2 separate regions of the Homo sapiens genome follow, and region 2 is linked to region 1. The links come from fine-mapping of genetic effects on gene expression. A gene starts in region 1. The other region holds a variant in brackets. All regions are shown on one strand. Distances are between the middles of the regions.

Region 1 (2,881 bases):
CATGGCAACTCTGCAATTGTTAGCCTACAACTTGGGCAAAGGCACTATCCAGAATCAGGACTCCAAAATCATCACGGGCTTTTTCCTCAGTGTAGATGAGTCACAGGGGTAGTAACTTAACTATTCCTTTCCTTAAACCTTCTTTTCCTTGTAACAGCAGAATCTGGGGAGGTTAATTAATCCTTCACAGGAAAGCTGGCAGGCAGGGTCTCATGCTGGCCCCACTAGCTTGGCCTTACCCCACCTTTCTGGGCCTGCTGCCTCAACAGAAACCCTCATCTCTAGCCCACCATTTGTGACTTTTACAACTTCACCAGCGTGCCGGGATGCGAGAAAGGTACTGGTAAATAACTAGTGATTCCAAAGCAACCAGCCTCTCTCTTCTGCCTTAGCTATCCCAAGCCACAACCTAACGGGAGGCGATGTTTTGGCTTTTTTTCCCACTTCTACCATGTTCAAGGTTTACTTTTTAAATTGAGGGGTGCTGACTAGAGGGATTGGTGACTTTAGACGATCCACTATCTCCATTGCTCGGAGCACCTGAGGTTCTGGGGCCTAAAGTCTGGAGATTTCAGAATAAAGAAGGCACAAGTCAGGATGAGAAGAGAAAGCAGAGATAGGAGGGGAGAGCCTGGGGGTTGTCACAATCTGAAAGGGCCAGAGGGCGAGAAAAGAGTGTTTGCAGGGACTGGGTGGAACAGGTGAAAAGCAGCACTCCAGGATCTAACTTTGGCCAGCTCCAAGGTATCCTCCCCCTGCGAGACATCCAAGATGGCGCCAGGCCCGCGCGGTTGGAGGTCACCGGCACGCGGAAGAGCCAACTCTAAGGCTAAGGGATAGCGGAAGCAAGAAAGGGCGAGAGGACCAGGGTGGGAGCACGCAAGGTAAGCGCCTCAAAGCATCCGCGCAAGGTGAGGTGTCCCGCGCGCGTGCGCAGCGCACAGAGGGCTCTAGGTCCCAAGGCCTTACCTGCTCCCACTGCAGAGAAGACAGAGAGGGGCGGAGCAGCGGGAAGAGCGAAAGGAAGGCTCAGCGCATGCGTGACCCGGGCCAACGAGTCGCTCAGCCACGGATAGAGTGATTGCAACATACAGGATCAGCTCAGGCATCACAGCGCCGCCTGCCAGGGCTGTGGCGGTATCCGGCCGGTTGCTCCACCTGGCGTTCGAGAGGAGAAACTACAGGGAGCGCCGACTGCAGAAATGAGGCCAACTCCGCGGAGTAAGCCGATCCGTAACGTGGACTGCGGTTTGGTCTGTACCGCGTTTGGGATCTCGGACTTGCGTCCCCTTTCCGAGCATGCGCAGTCGTCACACTGCCAAAACAAAACTCCTACTCAGAATTCAGTGTTAACATACGGTCGGGATTGGGGTTCAGTGCCTAAAATGCAGCAGGAGGAAGATCTTGGGAGTCCTGCTTTCTGTCGCGCCGGGACTCTGGCATCACTGGATGGCAAACCGGCTCCATGGGCGAATAGTCAGCAAAATGCCGCAGCTGCTTCTGGTGGCTTCGCCCTTTCCCCCACTCCCCGTTTCCTCCTTTCCATTCCGGTGATAAACCATGAGAGAAGCAGCATCAGCGAGCCAGAAGATAGGGTTAAATATGATCCGAATCCCTCTTTCCTGGCTCCTGGGACAGTCTAGGAATAACGGGCACCTGCGACCCGCTGTAAGGTTGCGAGGTCACTCCAGGCTTGCCCGAGCCTCTGCTCAGGTTTCAACTACGCGAGTTGGGATAAGCAGCGCCCTCCCCTCCCGCCCCCATGCTCTCCTGAACGTGGGTTTTCTCTCCCCTTTCGCTCGCCCTTCCCCTGATGGAAGGAGGTGGGGGAGGCTTCCTGGCCCTCATCTTTCCTAGGCCTCCTTGTCTCCCAGACAGGACCTGCCCTGCCCTTTGGAACAGGGCGACAAGGCCTATCCAGTTCCAAACCCCTGCCGTCCCTGCATCGTGCTTGAACGCAGCACGAGAAAGACGGGAAAAGCTCACCAAACCCCATAAAAAATAAAAAATAAAAAGAAAGCCGCGGCTGTAAATAAAGGCAAATCCGCCACTCTCTGAGGGGCCGTTTGTCCTCCCCTCCTTGGCCCCGTCCTTCCCGCCGCCCCCTCCCGGCTCCCGGGCCCCGCGGCGCCCCGGCCCCGAGCTCCTCCATTTAATCGGATTTGGGAGAAGGGGAGGATAAATCACGGCAGCAGCTTTACGGTCCCGGAGGAGAGGCGAGCCGCAGACAGGCACACCCCGGCCGGCGATAAAAACCGCCGCTGAAAGCCCACGGAGCAATTTCCCGGGACCCCGAGCGACGCCATTACAGGAATGTAATTTTGCCCGGATGAGGCCCCGAGTTTAATTATCCTCGCGGAGGAATTTCAATGCGGCCAATCCATCTTGCAGGCGGGCGGCAGAGGGATTTATATGGGCCCGTTATTTCACACCGATCCTCCATCTGCATTTTTATGGCCCTGAGCTCCTGAAAGGGAGGGGAAGGAGTGGGGAGAAATAGGAGAAGCGGGCGAGAAGAGGAGGGTGGTAGACTGCCTGTCTTTCCTAAATTCGCATTTCCAGCTCCATCAGGATTCTCACAGGTTCCTCTGAAATCCCCAAATCTCCAGTTTTAGTTGTTGATTGCGCCCCGAGCGGGCAGGTACGTGGGAAATGGAACTGGGATCTTTGGGAATCAATCAACAGGTATTTATCAAGTACCAAGTGGTGCCAGGCACTGTGGAGATGCTGTTAGGAGAAAGACAGGCTAGCAAAGACACAAGTTTATCCCCTGAGGTCTCCAGACATCTCCATTCCCACCAAAACGGAATTCTTTTAAGCTGTCAGCTTCACATCCTCAGTGGCAGAGAAAGTCCACAGTTCTTAGGAGCCACCACCCCCA
Region 2 (2,910 bases), 43 kb before region 1:
TGACTGAATTCACCAGTGAAACAACATGGTCCTGGGATTTTCTTTGTGGAACTTTTTTATTTTTAATGAGTAATTCAGTCTCTTTTCTTGTTATGGGTTTATTTAATTTTTTAAAATTTCCTCTTGAGTCAGTTTCAGTAGCTTGTGTCGTTCTAGGAATTCTTATATTTCATCTAGATTATCTAATTATTGGCATGCAATTTTCATAATATTCCCTTATAATCATTTTTATTTCTGTGAGCCTGATGATAACATTCTTTGTTTTATTCCTGATTTTAGCAATTTAAGTCTTCTCTCTCTCTCTCATTTTATTTTTATTTTTGAAAGCAATTTTATAACTTTATTTGATGTATCTGACTATCAGCAGTTAGTTCTCATCCACATTGCCTGTAGATTTTTGAAAGCGGTAACGGGTACATTGGTAACCAAAGTATAGAGCTTATTTGGTGAATCTTCATCCTCATTATGTTTTCTGGACAACCGCATACGGATAAGGTCTTGGACATTCCTTATTCCTTTGGCCCAGACAGCTTTGTTGAGTCTAGTATCAATGCGCACATCTGGAGTTCCCATCTCCTTCATGGCAAATTTCCAGATCTCTTTGCATGCCCAAGGGGAACGCTTCTTGAAGCCCACTCCGTGGATGCACCTGTGAAGGTTGACGGTGTATTCTCGGTCACCACCTTGTTGATGACAGAACAGCCCTTTTTCTTCTCGCCACCCTTCTTTGCGGGCCATTCTGCTGGGCCCAAGTTGGAAAGCTTTATTTATTTATTTATTTGAGACAGGGTCTTGCTCTATTGCCCAGGCTGAAGTGAAGTATGTGCATAGCTCACTGCAGCCTTGAGCTCCTGGGCTCAAGCGATCCTTCTGCCTCAGCCTACTGAGTAACTAGGACTACAGGTACATGCCACCATGCCAGCTCAGCTAATTTTTTGAATTTTGTTTTGTGTAGACACATCTCACTTTTGTTGCCCAGCCTGGTCTCAAACTTCTGGCTTTGACCAGGAATGGTAGCTCACACCTGTAATCCTAGCACTTTGGAAGGCTGAGGCAGGTGGATTGCTTGAGTCCAGGAGTCCAAGACCAGCCTGAGCAACAGGGCGAAATCCCTGTCTACAAAAAATACAAAAATTAGCCAGGTGTGGTGGTTCACACCTATAGTCCCAGCTACTAGGGAGGCTGAGTTGGGAGGATCGCTTAAGCCCAGCAGTTCGAGGTTGCAGTGAATGGCATGTCACTGCACTCCAGCCTGGGCAACAGAGTGAGACACTGTCTCAAAGAAAAGCCAAAAAATCCCCCCAAAAAGTCCTGGCTTCAAATGATCCTCCTGCCTCAGCCTCCCAAACTGTTGGGATTACAGGCATGAGCCAGCAGGCCCAGCTGAGTCTTCTCTCTTTTTATCTTGGTCCATCTAGCTAAAATTTTGTCAATTTTGTTCATCTTTTCAAAGAATCAACTTTTGGTTTCATTGATTTTATCTATTATTTTTTCATTCCTTATTTCATTTATTTCCAGTCTAGTCCCATGCTGGAGTGCAGTACCCCGATCATAGCTCACTGCAGCCTCAAGCTCCTGGGCTCAAGTGATCCTCCCATCTCAGCCTTCTAAGTAACTGGGACTACAGGAAATTGTCACCATGCCTGGCTA[A/AT]TTTTTTTTTTTTTTTGGTTTGTTTTTTGGGTAGAGATGGGTCTTATGTTGACCAGGTTGGCCTCAAATTCCTGGCCTCAAGTGATCTTCCCATCTCAGCCTTCCAAGTAGCTAGGACTACAGGCAAGTGTCACCATGCCTGGCTATTTTTTTTTTTTTTTTTTTTTTTTTTTGTAGAGATGGGTCTTACTATGTTGACCAGGTGGGTTTCAAATTCCTGGCCTCGAGTGATCTTCCCGCCTTAGCCTCCCAAAATGTTGTGATAATAGACATAAGCCACAGCTCCTAGATGCTTTTTTTCTTTGGTTTAGGCTATTGATTTGAGGTCTTTTTTCTTTTTAAAATTTATTCATTTACAGCTATAAAATTCCCTCTAAGCACTGGTTTAGCTGCATTGCATAAAATTTTAATAGGTTTTGTTTTTATTTTTATTTATTTCAAAGTGTTGTCTAACATCCCTGTAATTTCTTCTTTGATTCATTGTTTATTTAGGAATATGTTTTTTATTTTCCACATATTTGTGAATTTCTCATTTTCTTCTGTGATTAATTTCTAATTTTATTCCATTATGATTACAAAACATACTTTGCATTATTACAATACTTTAAAATTTATGAGTTATTTTTTGGCCTAAAATATATTTTATACTGAAAAATTTTTTCATGTACACTTTATTTTTATTTATTTTTTTAGACGGAGTCTCACTCTGTTGCTCAGGCTGGAGTACAGTGGTGCAATCTCAGCTCACTGCAACATCTGCCTCTCAGGTTCAAGTGATTCTCGTGCCTCAGCCACCCCAGTAGCTGGGATTACAGGCGCTGAGGTGGAGTCTCACTCTGTTGCCCAGGCTGGAGTGCAGTGGCACAATCTCAGCTCACTGCAACCTCTGCCTCTCAGGTTCAAGCAATTCTCTTGCCTTAACCTCCCAAGTAGCTGGGATTACAGGCATGCGCCACCACACCTGGCTAATTCTTATAGTTTTAGTAGAGAAGGGGCTTAGCCATGTTGGCTAGGCTGGTCTCGAACTCCTGGCCTCAAAAGATCCAGCAACCTCAGCTTCCCAAAGTGCTGGGATTATAGGCGTGAGCCACTGCCCCTGGCCCTCATGTGAACTTTAGAAGGATATATATTCTGCTATTGTTAGGTGGAGTGTTTTATAGATATCTGTTAAGTCTAGTTGGTTAATAGTATTGTTCAAATCCTCCCTTTCCTTGTTGATCTTTTGTCTAGATGTTCTATCCATTATTGAAAGTGGAGGTA

Which allele goes with the higher level. Positions count from the first base shown, and alleles are read on the strand shown. Sizes are in standard deviations (SD) of each study's normalised expression.
As copies of AT replace A in region 2, the expression in prefrontal cortex of the gene that starts at base 1,000 in region 1 goes up (small effect, 0.23 SD a copy in CommonMind).

Evidence for each region. PIP is the estimated chance that this variant, and not a neighbour inherited with it, causes the effect.
Region 2: its variant is the best candidate, but not a certain one, in a credible set for the expression of ATP5MC2 in prefrontal cortex (CommonMind, PIP 0.53).

What each region holds. Positions count from the first base shown.
Region 1 is chr12:53,675,084-53,677,964 of GRCh38, forward strand. ATP5MC2 (ATP synthase membrane subunit c locus 2) reads right to left here and starts at 1,000. Exons shown (of 5, transcript NM_005176.7): 1 at 970-1,000. RefSeq lists enhancers at 702-1,151, 1,262-1,491.
Region 2 is chr12:53,632,418-53,635,327 of GRCh38, forward strand. It overlaps the pseudogene RPL31P51. Among named protein-coding and RNA genes, the nearest start is that of ATF7-NPFF, 7.5 kb to the left of the region's middle. The variant A/AT (reference allele first, on the strand shown) is at 1,651.